Homo sapiens: one gene and its partner. The protein of the gene in region 1 interacts with the protein of each later gene in a pairwise test. Each region holds a gene or a part of one and is shown on either strand. Other genes may lie near its edges.

What was found.
Region 2: the proteins of DCAF17 (region 1) and PTCHD1 interact in a two-hybrid assay, tested with the Homo sapiens proteins (one study listed by BioGRID and IntAct).

The regions. Positions count from the first base shown.
Region 1 is NC_000002.12:171,429,471-171,437,337, reverse strand, and holds the start of DCAF17 (DDB1- and CUL4-associated factor 17), read right to left. Parts: upstream 3,113-7,867; 5' UTR 2,761-3,112; coding exon 2,635-2,760; exon of another isoform or gene 2,566-2,634; intron 2,563-2,565; exon of another isoform or gene 2,341-2,562; intron 2,256-2,340; coding exon 2,152-2,255; intron 1-2,151. Other genes in the region: METTL8 (tRNA N(3)-cytidine methyltransferase METTL8, mitochondrial isoform 2 precursor), read left to right, coding at 2,657-2,664. UniProt on the Homo sapiens protein: May function as a substrate receptor for CUL4-DDB1 E3 ubiquitin-protein ligase complex.
Region 2 is NC_000023.11:23,379,481-23,386,884, reverse strand, and holds part of PTCHD1 (patched domain-containing protein 1), read right to left. Parts: intron 7,295-7,404; coding exon 6,634-7,294; intron 1-6,633. UniProt on the Homo sapiens protein: Required for the development and function of the thalamic reticular nucleus (TRN), a part of the thalamus that is critical for thalamocortical transmission, generation of sleep rhythms, sensorimotor processing and attention. Can bind cholesterol in vitro.

The DNA.
Region 1 (7,867 bases):
CTAATAAATGGTGCTAGGACAAATGTATAGCTGCATGTTAAAAAAAATGGAGTTGGATACCTACCTTATACCCTATACTAAAATTAACTCAAAGTGGATCAACCACCTAAATATGAGCTAAAACTATAAACCCTTTAGAAAAAAACCTAGGAGCAAATCTTAATGACCTCAAATTTTGCAATGGATTCTTAGATATGGCACCAAAAGCATGAGTAATGAAAAAAATTTAGATAAATTGGACTTCATCAAAATTAACCTCTCTGTGGCTGGACGCGGTGGCTCATGCCTGTAATCCCAGCACTTTGGGAGGCCGAGGTGGCCGGATCACCTGAAGCTGGGCGTTCGAGACCAGCCTGACCAACATGGAGAAACCCGGTCTCTACCAAAAATACAAAATTAGCCAGGCGTGGTGGCGCATGCCTGTAGTCCCAGCTACTCGGGAGGCTGAGGCAGGAGAATCACCTGAACCCGGAAGGTGGAGACTGCAGTGAGCCGAGATCACGCCATTGCACTCCAGCCTGGGCAACAAGAGCAAAACTCTGTCTCAAAAAAAAAAAAAAAAATTAACCTCTCTGTTTCAAACAATAACATCAGGAAAGTAAAAAGACAATCTACACAATGGGAGAAAGTATTTGAAATCATATATCTGATAAGGGACTTGTATCTAAAATATGTAAGGATTTTTGTAAAAAAAAAAAAAAAAATTTACAAGTGGGCAAAATATCTAACCAAACATTTCTCCAAAGAATAACATACAAATGGCTAATATGCACAAGAAAAGATGCCTGACATCACTAGTCATCAGGAAAATGGAATCAAAACCACAGTGAGATGCTGTGAGTCACACATCAAGTGTTGACAAGAATGTGGAAAAATCAGAACCCTCATATACTGCTTATGGGAACATAAAATGGTACTACCACTTTAGAAAAGTGTATGGCAGTTCTTCTAACTATTAAACGCAGTTACAGTATAATCTTATGACCTACCAATTCCATTCCTAGGTATAATCTAGGAGAAGTGAAAATAAATGCCCACATAAAAACTTACATGGAAATGTTTATAGCAGCATTATTTATAATAGCTAAAAGGTAGAAACACCAATGTCTAACAACTGATAAACGGATACGTAAAATGTGGTAATTGATACAATGCAATATTATTCAACTTTATAAAGGAATTCTGATGCATGTGACAACATGGATGAACCTTGAAAACACGCAAAGTGAAAAAGCCAGTTACAAAAGACCATATATTATATGATTCCATTTATATGAAAAGTACAGAATAGGTGAATCTACAGACAGAAAACAGACTAGTGGTTGCTTAGGGCTGAGGGTAATGGTGGTACTGAGGTGACTGCTTAAAGGTACATGGTTCTGTTTTGAAGTGATGAAAATGCTCTAAAATTAACTGTGGTAGTGATTACATGTATCTGTGAATGCATTAAATATTATTGAACTGTACACTTTAAATGGGTAAATATATGGTATGTGAATTATATCCTAATAAAGCCTATAAAAAAAGCTCATTTTTTTAAAAATGCAAACTGATGTATGTTTAGAATATGCTTTAAAAGAGGTCATGCAAAAGGAAAAGTGGGTTAGATAAAGCAAATGTGGCAAATCTTGATAGTTTTTGAATCTGGGTAATGAGTATATGGGGATGCATTGTGGCTTTCCTTCCCCCCTCATGTTGGACAGTTGTGGATGAGGCTGACTGTTAAACATTTTGGATCTCTAAATACTAGGCTTTTGTTTGAAAAAATTTCTCTAAAAAAAAAAAAAAAAGGCAAGTACTTCCAAAACACAATCCATCAATTCTCCAAAGCAGCATCTAATTATTTGATTGGCAACTGGATTTCTTGACTGTGGTATAAGTAGACTAAACACTAAACAGTACTCTGAACAATCTGTGGTTTTGCCTGCACTGTAGTTTTGCTTTAAGTTGGTATTTACAAAAATGACACCTGCAACTTTAGATTTAACAAGATTTTAAAATTACATGCATTTTTTACTGCCTAGTCTTATTTCGGACCCATTTTTTTCATTCTATTTCACTAGGCACTAATGTAGGCATGTGGTTCTATACAAATTATAGTTAAGATCAACAGTGAGGTGAATTACAGCAAAATTATCAATAAAAAGTTACCTGCTGACACAGCGCCGATAATTGTCAAAATATATTCTTCCTCTCTCATAGGCTATAGGTGACCTGGAATGAGTTGTCCAGACATTCTTAAATTTAGTACTTTCCTAAAAGACATAAAGAATTTCCGTTCAGGAAAGAACTCTTAGGCTTTAAGTTAGATTTTAAATTTTCAAAGCAACATAATGTCACCTATATTATTTTAAAACTTTTTGCATCCTTCCTCCACTCTGCCCTCATGTTTTGGCTTAATGAGGTGACCAACTTTTAGAATAATTGTTTCCAGGTAAGACATAAGAAGCGTAAAACTAAAAGCAGCTGGTGGCCCTATTACCACCTATCCCAGATTCCGGGCTTGTATCCTCCTCCCCATCACATGTGACCCTATAAAGGGAGGCCCCAGCGCGTTAAAACCGCATCCCCGCAGGAGGCTCGGCCGCCGCGCGCCCGCGGCCCTCCGTCCCGCCCCGGCCGGCTGGCGGTCACCTGGCACACCAGCGCCCGCAGGATGCCCAGGTTGGTCCTCTGCACCACGCCTGCGTCGCGCGAGAAGCAGCCCAGCGCCCGGCGACTCAGCCGGCTGCACACGTTGGGCTTCCGGGTCGGGCCCATGGAGGCGCGGGCCGGGCCCTGGGTAGGCTGGGCCGCCGAGTGGCGCGCCCCACACTCCCGTGCTGGGCAGCCGCCGCTGCCTTCGAATTTCGAGGCCCAGACTTTCCCGGCGGGGCCCAGGGAAAGCTGACACGGGGAGGCGGGCAGGGAGCACCCGACGGCGGGGCGAGGGAAAGCAGAGCCGCTTGCACCGCCAGAGCGCGGAGAGAAGGGAAGAAGCACTCCCTTTTCGATCTGCCCCAGGCTCTCTGGCCGCTGACAGTGCGACGCTCCGGTACCGCGCGGCCGGCCGGAGCCGCTCTCTCACCGGGAAATGTAGTTCCTAGTGCCTCGTGAGGCAGCCCGGCTTCTCCCAGGAACTACAATTCCCGTCAGGCGGCGGGGAGCGAGGGCTTGCCCGGCCCTGCCTCTGCCTGCCGCGGCCCCGCCTCCTCCGGCCCGCGGAGGCTGCGCTGTCTTGCGGGCGCGCTTCTCTGTGCTGCGAGTGGCTAGCTGGGCAGAGCCCTGGGGGCGCGGTGCTGCCGCCTCCAGGTCTCCGCCCCGTGTGTGCGCCCTGCACTTAGGGATCCCTCCCTCACTGCCCCGGTACTCACAAGCTTCTCGGCCCCGACCTTCGCCCTGGGAGGTTCTGGCCAGGTGCCGGGAGGGGCGCTGTGTCGAGGGCGATCCCCCCAAAGCAGCGTCCCGTGCTAAAGGTACGCCCCGCGGCTTTCCCTTCAGCCGCATGTTGGCTGAGGGGGACGGTAAACTGTGCTTTTGTATTAGGAAGATGCTGGCTTCCCATTCACTCTTAGTTTCACCCTCCAAACTGGGATTGAGTTACTCTTTCCCGGAGGCTTGTCCTTGGGTGGCCTGCGGGGACACTGACTGGTTTTGCGATAATTGCTTCATTTCATTTCCTCTCGCCTCCATTCTTTTTTCTTTATAGGGAATAAAATATGAAATGCTTACATTCTTATTGGACGGCCTAAGATATTCCTCGTCGATGTCTCTAAGTAAAAGATATACTTTGTTAACTAGCCCTGCCTGTATGTTCAAAGTTCCCAGCACACTAAACTTTCAGCAAGCTTGCACCACATGTGTCCCACCGCCATGCTCTAAGTCCCTTAAGGGTGGGGCCGCTGTATCTCCCACGTGGACTTGGGCATGCTACCTCTTGTTCATAGGTGCTCAAAGAAAGCCAGCGATCGCACCTGACTGGCAGAGCAAAAAGTACAGTACAGCAGGTCCTTGAATCGCATTTTTTCGTTCAGTGTCATTTTGTATAACTTGATGAGAAAAAATAATAATTTCCTACCGGGGCTACTGTTTGTGTGGATCTTGCCCCTTCTCCCCACGTCTGCATGGGTTTTCACCAGGTACCCCAGGGTACTGCCTCCCACATCTCAGTGCAGGCTGGATGAATTGGCCTTGTCTGTGTTTCCTGTCTGAGTGTGAGTGTGAGTGCTCCCTGCGATGGAATGTCGTCGTGTCCAAGGGTTGGTTCCCACCTTGCACCCTGAGCTGAGGGGATAGGCTTCAGCCACCCTCGACCCTGAACTGGAATAATTAGGTAAATAACTATCTTACTTGTTTTTATTAATCTTCCTTAAATGTATGTATAGCTCCCATTTATTTCAATGTTTAATATTAGAAGTGTTTTGGTTTGTATTTAGGAGTTTGGTGATGTTTTTGTGACCAGAAATATGTTATAGGAACTTAACTTTTGTTTATATCAATTGGCCTATGGTAAAAATGGTTTTGTTATATGTCATTTTGCTTACAGTCAGTTTCCAAAAATCTGTTGATGACATTAAGTGAGTACTTACAGTACTGGGTGAGTGTGTTGGGTCACAGTTTAAGTGTTTAGTAAACATTGGCCATATCTCTTTTTAACCCTGCTGAATTTCCTTCAGGGCTCGAGCTTTTGCTGATTTTTCATGACTTATTTACAGCATACGGTAGAGTGCTTTGTATATTTTTAGAGAGTGCTACAATAGTTAATTTGGTAATTCATGAATGCAGCTGTCACTGAGAAAACTGGAACCCAGAAAAGATAACTGGGTTTTCTTTGGCTTAAATGAAATTCAAATCATTTCTGAATTGAATTCATCAACTCTCTCATTTCTCTTTCCTCTTTGCCCCCACTTGTTTGTCTTCTTTCTTGTGGCCTTTATTTCACCACCAAGTCGTCACCAAGGGAGAGTCATCCTGGATGCCTTGCTGTTCCTCACCCACAACCAAGTCCTTTAGACTCTTATCCATCTCATCTTCATTTCACCTAAGTAATTTAGGGCCTCACCATTTTTTATCACATTATTAAGTAGTCTCTTAATTTCTGCCTTACTTGTGACACAGGATTTTTTTTTTTTGACGTTGCTTTGCCACTGGAGACCTCCGCAGCTGGAGACCTACCCAGGCCTTGCTCGGGCTGGGCTTGCCACAGGAGGTGCCCTGCACAACTGGCCCACTGGGCCACTCCTGGCTTGCACGCAGGTGTGGATCCTGTGGCCACCTGACTGTGGGCTCAGCCCCTGGCAGGAGAGGGTGTCTGAGCTGGTGAGTGCAGAGTTGTGTGGTATCCAGCTGGTTGCTCCAAGTGCCGGCACAGGAGCTGGCTCCGTGCACCGCTTGCGGCTGGACCAGGCATGTCACAAGTGACTCCCACAGTGGGCTCTGGAGTCCAGACTAGGGGAAGGTGGTGGTAACCAAATGGGTCAGGCAACCCAGAAGCCCCAGAGGTGGGTGTTACAGCATGCTAACAGCTCTTTTAGATCTGCCCTCTGCAGCCTGACGAACAGGGGCATGTTAACAGCCCTATCAGTCCTGTTACCCCACTCCCGCCCATGGCCCTGGGGCTGGCCTGGCCCCCCGCCCTGCTTCTTGTTGCATAGGGTGGCTACCAGGCGCTGCTGGTGGGGCAGAGAGCTACCGTGTTACTCTCTTCTTCCTACCCATGTTTGGTGGCATCCTGAGCTCTTGTCCTGTGTCCAAGAATGAGATTACACTAACAATCGGAGGGTGAGGAGGACAGAGAAGAGTTTTATTGAGCAACAAAACAGCTCTTGATGCAGGATTTTTGCTCTTAGCTCAGCTAGGTCTGAGTTTTTGTCTCACAATCAGTAAGAATTAGGTGTGTGGACCCCGGAGAGTGAGTGGAGTAGAATTTATTTAGTGAAAGGAAAGCTCCCAGTAAAGAAAGGGGTCCTGAAAGCAGGTTGCTGGTTGCCCCCTTTACAGTTGAATACCTGGGCTTAAGGTGCAAATTTCTGGAGGCTCCACCCCATCCTTCCAGTGTGCTCGTGGGCCCTTAGTCTGAGCTACTCCATATTGGTTATTTCCCTTACTGCACATGTGTTAGGGAATGGAATTTTCTATTGTGGGCATGTTTAGGCAAGCCCCCTGTGCAAATTCCCTTATGTGCACAAAACATCTGGTGTAAGCACTTTTGGGGCACGTCGTAGGTTCTTCAGGGACGCTTCCCTTACTGTCTGCCTAAAGCAAGCTGGCTAACTCCTTTCATTCTCAGCCAAGAGGGGACGCAAGGGTGGTCCCCCACCCAAAGTAGTTTGGCCTCTCTTCTGGCATGGCTGGGTCTGGGGCTTTTATGGGCTCAGAATGGGGAAGTGCATGCTGATTGGTTTGTGAGTATGCAAAATAGGCTAAAACAAAGGCACCACTCAAAGGTGGGCACAACAGTGTGAAAAAACAAATTAGAGAAGGGTGGGTATATGTAAAATAGGTGAAGGGTGGGGATCAATCAGAGGAAAGTGCACCAAATGGGAAGAGAGGTTCTCGATCTGGTCCATAGATTTATCCAGGACATGTAGCTAGGCTTTAAGCTGTCTTCAGCTTGAAGGTCAGGTTTCACTGGGGACCCACCCCCATCTGCCTAGGATTTGTCTGCCTCCTGCTGCTATCACTTGGGTACTTTTAATTCCAGCCCTCCTCCATACTGCTGCCAGAGTGATTTTCCTAAAGCACAAGCTGTCACTTGCCTGTTGCATTCTTTCAGCAGCTCCGAACACCCATAGCAGAATTTCTTATTTATTTATTTATTTTTATTATACTGTAAGTTCTGGGGTACATGTGTAGAACGTGCAGTTTTGTTATATAGGTATACATGTGCCATCGTGATTTGCTGCACCCATCAACCCGTCACCTACATTAAGTATTTCTCCTAATGCTATCCCTCCCCTAGCCCCTAGACAGGCTCCCTTTTTTTTTTGTTTTTTGTTTTTGAGATGGAGTCTTGCTCTGTTGTCCAGGCTGGAGTGCGGTGGGGCTATCTCGGCTCACTGCAGCCTCCACCTCCCAGGTTCAAGTGATTCTCCTGCCTCAGCCTCCCCAGTTGCTGGCATTACAGGCGCACACCACCATCCCTGGCTAATTTTAATATTTTTAGTAGAGACGGGGTTTCACCATGTTGGCCAGGCTGGTTGTGAACTCCTGACCTCAGATGATCCGCCCACTTTGGCCTCCCAAAGTGCTGGGATTATAGGCATGAGCTACCGTTCCTGGCCCATAGCAGAATTCCTTTTTTTTTTTTCTTTTTGAGACGGAGTTTTTTTGCTCTTGTTGCCCAGGCTGGAGTGCAATGGTGTGATCTCGGCTCACTGCAACCTCTGCTTCCCGGGTTCAAGTGATTCTCCTGTCTTAGCCTCCCGAGTAGCTGGGATTACAGGCACATGCCACCACACCCAGCTAATTTTTGTATTTTTAGTAGAGATGGGGTTTCATCATATTGGTCAGGCTGGTCTCAAACTCCTGACCTCAGGTGATCTGCCTGCGTCTGCCTCCCAAACTGCTGGGATTACAGGCGTGAGCCACCACGCCTGGCTGAGCAGTATTTCTTATACCCAAATAAGATACTCAGGATCCTCCATTGTTAACTTAAAACCTTTTTAGTATGTCACATATATGCAAAGATAAAATTAGGTATAAACTCCTCATCTTGTCTCTTTCTTGTTTTTTGTCTTTTTAATTTTTTTATGTGTGTGTTGTATCTTTTATACACCGATAACACCCGAACATTTACAAGTTAAATGAAACAAAGCTATAAAACCAATAAATTCAAATGATTGTGAGCAATGAGACTTTAGTTGGACCTAAAAAGCTCTAATCATGA
Region 2 (7,404 bases), on another chromosome or scaffold:
GGATGGCTTGCTGATTGATGGATGATCTTTCAGTTTCAGTGTGAAAACATTTAATATCATGAGTCAATGAAGCTGTTTATAGCATGCCTGGGCAGTGCCAAATTTCATATATGGAAATAAAATTACTACATTCGTCTCAAAAATTCAGAGACTATAATCCATAAGCAAAATCTGCTTAAAGCCTATTTTATTCTTAGAAAAGCTTCACTAAGTAGCTCATGTTTATAAGATGCCTGTTTTTCAATGTCATCCACATAAATTCATGATTTTTGTGTTTTTGAGAAGAAATTTAAAGTGTATATATGTCTGGGTTGAGTAACATCTATTTTCAGGGAGAAGTTTATTAATTGGGTTACATTTACACTTTGCCAGTTATAAACATTTACTTTACAAGCTGAATTGTTTGGTTTATTGCAGCCTGTTTTGTCTCAGAGTTAAGAGTAAGAATAAAGGTGTACTCTGTTTAAGTAAAGACAGATGCTCACATCAGGGGGAACACACACATCTTATTCTTTGTACTAGAGACTTGTCACATTTTGAAAATTCTAACCAGAGCATTGGGTTTTAGTCTTAGGAATGATTTTTCTTCACTAGATAGCTGTAAAAGAGAGCCCTAGAAATGAATTTGCTTATAGCTCTTCCTTGTTTAAAGTATTTAGATATTGTGTGTATGTACATTATATAAGACCAGTGTGTATAAGTATAAATGTGGCCCATAATATATGCTATGGTCATTGCTTAATTTCTTTTCGTATAGAATACAAATGTGATATATAAACATATGTATATATGGCATATCCTATTCAAATATATTTTATATATTTACATACAAAATGTTGGACTCCTATATACCAGATAGTATACACAGAGAATAGCTTCTATTTAAATATTCAAGCAATATATATTACATAATATATGTTATAAACACATTGTATACATATAAATACATAACATGAGCTTACTACATATCATATTGCATATGATATATAATACAGCTAATGTGATATATAATATATATTATGCACATAGGCTATAAAGACACACATACACACAAGATGAATAGTAGGCTGATGTGAAATTTATTTTACTGATGAGGCAAAATAATGTTAGTGTTGCTACACCAATCAGTGTAGAGAAGGGGCTATAGAATCCCTCTGTTGGGCTCCATCTGTCTATATTTTGGTTCTTGAGTAATAAAGTAGCCTTGGTGAAATGCAGGGTTTCCTTGACAATAACTGTGAACCTGTTTCGGTTGTGAGCTTCTGTATATCCATCTGGTCAAGACTGCCCAGCTGTGACTTTCTGAGAGTTTAGTCCAAATGTAGATACTAGGTATTTCTCCCCAGGGTCTATGTTTAGTTCAGTGTCCTGATGTTGCCTCTTGCTGCCCAACCTTTACAGGGTCTGTCACTCCCTCATTCCCTGGGCACGACCGGGTAGACAGACCACCCAGGGGATATCTGGGAATCCTGGGTCAAAGACAAAGCCCCTTTGTATTCCTCTGACTGAGTTCTGCTTTCCTGGACTTGTGCCCCCAAGTCCTGTTCCTGTCTTACTTTATGGTTAAAAATAGAACAATAAAACTTGTTTTGTTCCATTCCCCTAAACCTATTTATTTCCACCTACTCTCACCCTAATATGATTGGTGGAGCATAAGAATAAAAGGGCAAGAACGAATTACAAGCCTAAATTACATAATCTCCTTGTAAATTAGTCCCATAATGACCATGGACCATTACAAAAAACGATATTCGAGAGACAAACTTTGGAAATACTGTAAAATAAATGATCTCTTTTAAAAAAATAGATGTACACAAAAATGTGAACAACAAAACCCTCATAAATCAGTTGTTTTCTCTAGAACATGCTGAACCTATTACTGATTTATATCTAAGCAAAGTCTTTCCATAGCATTCTAATATACTTCTACTCCATCAGGCAAAATTGTCATATTGTTGCAAATAATGGATTTCTACAATAATGTGTTAGGCTGAACCACACAAAATTACCATTTTTGTAGCTCAAAAATGACCAGATAATGGTACCAAGTTTGTAGGCCAAAAATGGTTGGATATTTGCAATTTCATATGGTTTAAATTTTATTATTATCTGACTGATTTTTCCCTCATTTTCTCATGACTTTTGAAATGTATCAGAATACTCATCAGGAAAGCAAATTCTTTCAGGTTTGCTTAAGTTTAGAGAAAAAATAAGAATTTCAATGTTTCAGTTGGAACTAAATGTTTTGCATGAGAATTTTTTTTCCTTCCCTTTTTATGAGCTCCATATACTGCATTATATTTCAAGTGGCATCATATGAGAGCAAATTCTTGGAGAATGGAACCCAATCTTCTGGTTTCTGCTACATATGAATAATGTTAAAATGCACAGCTAAAAGAAGCCAAACTTCCCTGCTATTATTCTTTTCCTAGCACTAATCCGCAAATTAGAAATAATCCACTAATTCTTTCTTCCTTTCACGTCCTTGAATCTGAGTGGCCTGGTTGGATAATTCAAAAGGAAGAGAACACCCTGGATCTGACATCTGACCTCAAAATCCCAAACATTTGAAAAAGGGCTTAAAGAGTATTTTTTATCTCATAAATCTCTGGGGCTCTTGTATCTTGATAAATGCAAAGCAACCTTTATAAACTAGATTGCATGTAGAAACTAATATCCGAACTCTTTCACTACGACTTCAATTCTCCTTTTTAGCTGTACAGGATGTACATGAAGCAACAAACCTTCCAGATGCAGAAGGGAGAAAACTTTCTTTTGGTTCCCTTCTACATCATCTAACATTCTATCCCTTTCCTGATTTGTATCTGATCAGCAAAGCTGTTGAAACATTAAGCCTGTAAGGAGAGCTTGCACACAGAAAACCTATGCTAATTTTAAAAATCATACCCAACTGGAGAATAATGGTGTAAATCTTCATCCTTTAAAGGAAATTCCATCACAGATTAAAATAATTAGCATCATATATTCACAAGTAGCAATTCAAGTAACTCACTACTTGATATCAATATATTTGGAAAGGGTTATTATTTTATGCACGATAAGGGTATAGACCAAATAAACTCTTCTCCAAATTAGAGTAACTAAAAAATGTCGATGAACATTTATAACGCTGTAGACCTTTTAGGATTTCAGCTCTAAATAAACTGATATGACTCATCTGGACAGAGGTTTTGGCAGAAGTGGGATTGTCTAGTATGCACAACACTGATTAAAAACATTCTAAATCATGATGTATCTATGCTTACATCATTGCCAAAATGATTCATCTGTGTAGGATATATTCTTATTGCCAGAACTGTCACATATCATCTTGGCTAGAAACACACAGTCACATCCCATTATGGTGAACTCTTAAGAGTTTATCCAAATTCTTTCCTCTTCTGGAATTTTGTCAGGTTAATACTGCTTGACACATGTGATCTTAAAATTTTCCATTCTAAATCTAGTGTCATTTTGGCATTTGGCTGGATTTGGCCTATGTGACCAGAATCACACTGACAATGTTCAGTTTGTTGAATTTTAAATCTATAATGTTTATCACAGTATAGACCTATTGATAGCCAAGGAAATGTCCATGTTTGAGACTTTTTCTAAGATACTTTACCTTTTAAATGAGGCTATATACTTTTTGATTTGATATTGTATTTATATAACATACTAAATCAAGTTTTGCTTAAATCTGCTTAGGTTAAGCATAGCCATTTTAAGTTATACACAGGAAAATTTAAACACTGGACAGTTTACTGTAGTGCCAAAACTCTTAGCACTGCATTTCTTCTTGGTCATTTGAAATATTTACTGGCATTTTAGGACTGGTCATCCAAAAACCCCAGAATTAAACGATGGCCTTGAATGCAACATTTATGAAGCTGTTCTTGCTTATATTTCATTTTATAAACTCTTAAAAATGAAGAGTTTATCTGAGAAATACAGGAGGGCGACCATCCTAAATCCAGGCACTGTTAGCTTTATGAGCATATTAAGCACCCATTACATCGTGCAAAGTGTTTATTGTAAATGGGCCTTAGCTATTAAAACATGTAGCTTCCTTTCATGTTATGACTAAGTAATTTGAGAACTCTTTGGGCTGAGAATGTACAGAAAGGTTGCACACTGATTGTCAGCAGGGAAAACTGCCATCAAATCAATGCACGTAACATTCCTCAGAAATTGCAAACAAGGGCTTATTGGGCACCTGTGGTGCGTGGTCTCTTTCGCTGCAAATGCTAGATTTTTTCTGAATTGAACTGTGATGTAAAGTTCAGTGATACTCAGTCTTTGTGGATCTGTGGCATTACTATTTCTGGATTTGTTTTTTAAAGACATTTCCCTGCTAACAGCATCTTTCCATCCTACCATCTCTTACATCCTTCCCTGCACCAATACTATCTGCCATGGTCTGTTTTGTGTTGACTTTGCCTTACAATATTTAAAACCTCTTTAAAAAGTACAAAAAAGTAAGTTTTAAGAAATTTAAAATATTGCAGTTTACTTTATAAAACTAACTTTAAGAAGTTTTGAATATTACAATTTCATTTTTTAGTGAAACGAAGTTTTGAATACTGCTATTTTAGTTTACTTAAAATTAATTTGAAGAAACTTTAAATATTATAATTTTATTTTACTTAGTAAATTAACTTTTCACAAGTTTTAAATATTCTAACATGCTTTGAGCTCACTGGTAACAACCTGGAATGTCATAAAATCAGCACTGATTGTCCTTTTTCTAGCTCCGGCGTCCTTTTGCCTCACCTTGAGAACCTTACGATCTCCCTTCAGTTCCCCACTCTTTTCTTATTCCTATTTCTCTTCCTCCCACAAAAGCAGCAAGAAAATGAAAAGCTAAAAAATGAAACGAAACGAAAACCCTTCCCGTAACCCCCAAAACATTCAAGATTGTGACTAATCATGAGCAAAACATCTTAATTTCAACCTTGATACAAGCCTCTGTGGAAGCTACTAATACTCAGTCCTACTCACTCTTCAAGGAACCACTCTGTATTCCACAGTCAACCCACACGGTCTTGGGGTGATTTTAAAGCGGCAGGTTATGCTGCTTTCTTAATAGACCGAATTCAGGAGGAGGTACGGCAGCCTTCTTCTCTGTTGTTTTCAGCAGTGACAAGTACATTATCAAATTATCAGGCTGCTCGGTCTCCTTACAGTGCCCAGCTCTTCACAAAAGCTACTAGTATATGTTTATTGACTAGGTTTCAATTCCTCGGGCCACAGAGAATCGAGGGCAGAATGTAATTCTGTGGCTTTGCAGCCCCACCAGCCCCGCTTATCGTGTGCTCACAACACAGCGGAGATTTCCTGAGGAAATTCTCTTCCACTACTCTAAAACAGGGCATAAGGCACGCTAATGACCTCAACAGTGGTTATTTCTTAGTTAACCAAAAAATGCCACTTCATTTGTCATGTGAGTATCTGATTCCAAATGACATTTTAATTTTGTTAAAGGAATTGATGAGAAGCTACCATAGAAAAGGGGGAAAGTGAACCTCTTGAATCCTTGGCCCGCAAGAACCCTGCCATCAGGCTTGCTGGGCATGCCATTTTCGATAACAGATGGACAGGGCAACCGATGTTATGGCCACTATGGCTTTGTTTTGACCATTAATCTCTATCAGGGAGTTCCAGCAGCCCCCTGAGTGGACACACTGGAAGCACGCTGTCACCATCAGCATCGCTTTAAAATATTCTCCTGAGTTCATAGTAAGAATAGGAAAAAAAGTTACTTCCTACTGGTATCTCACATGTCACTTTCAAAGTTCTTATACATTTATCATGTCCTTTTGTGTGATGCTCACATCCACTCTATTCATAAGGTGGGGAAACTGAGAGTAGCAGGCGCTCTCAGTGCCAACCCAACATGCCCTCCCATTCCCCATTCTTGAGCTTGCTGAAGGCTTATAACTACAAAGTCACCTGAAGGATTTCTCTGGCTGCAGGAGTGTGCTGCAGGAGCACCTCCCTGGGAAGTGCTGGCAGTTAACTGGCCTGGGGAGCAGCCCTCAATGAATCACAAAGGGTCTGTGGGAAAATAGCCCAAATTCCTCACCCCGGGGGAGGACCTCTCTGAGGTGTGTTTCACAAGGTCTCCCAAAGGTCCCCTGTGGGGCTGAACCACAGGTGCCCACAGCAACCGGCAGAATGTGATATATCTTGGGCTCATTAACATACCTTCAACTGCCTGCCTTCAACTGAAGTGCCTTCAACTTCCACTTCCTCACTCCCATACTGGTGCTTCCTGGGCTCACCTCCCAAATACACTACTTGTATCCAAATCTTTTTCTCAGGGCCCTGCTTATGGGGAAGCCCAACCTAAGACACTGGGACAAGGAGAAGATTAATACCTGCTAGACACCACATGGCTGCTCAATGGAGAGTCAGCGCTAGAACCCAGGACTTTGAACTTCTGGCACATTTACCAGATTAGGTTGTTTTTTGCTGATTACCAGCACTTTATAGAGTGGGTCCCAGGACTTTTGGGCAAAATGAAGATACTGTTAAATGAAACAAAGTTGTTAGAAGGCTACTCCTGGCCTTTTAGGAACCTAGTCAACACCACCAGCAGGCGGAAACAGAAGAAAGAAGAGTAGTAATTACCTAGCATGACGAAAGGGACTCCCAGGAAGGTGGAATTATATTTCCCACCAGTAAGATTGATGATCCCGGCTGCAGTGAGAGTGGCCAGGCTTATGGTCACCAATCCGAGCAGGCCTAGCCAGGGTTTGCTGCGGACGCAGTCCTGCATAGAGCAACACAGGATGGCCATGGTAACCACCAGAATCAGGCTGGTGACCAGGTAACGTTCTGATACGCGGCTGGTCTTCTGGAAATCTTCCCTCAGTGAGGAGGACGTGTAAGGGTACATTTTGACTTTGCTGTTGGATTTCTGAAACAGTCTGACAGTGTCGCAGAAGCTGGACTCCCACCTCTCAGCCACCATGTCATTGAGACTGTTGATTGACTGCAGGTAGTAGGTGAGCTGGATGGCCTCTGCAGATTTCACCCGGTCTTTGCTGTGCACAGTGACGCCCCCAAGCTGGTGCCCATTGTACACAGCCCTCCCGTCCTTTAAGTGAGTGATTGGGTATGTGATAGCAAAATTGGTCCGATTGGTGGCCCGAGCATTCTTTAGCTCTTCCAGGACGTGCACTATGTCATCCACGATGCAAGTCTTATCATTATTCAGGATACATATATGGGCAAACGTGTAATTAAAACCAGGCCTTGGAACCTGGATCTTGGTGACAGCAGCATGCAACTGTGGGGGAAAAAAATGACAGCATTTATTAATCAAATATTTCTATTTTTATTTTTTGGAGAGGGTGGACATTCCGTCTCTAAGCTAAACAGTTCAAATCAAATGTTATA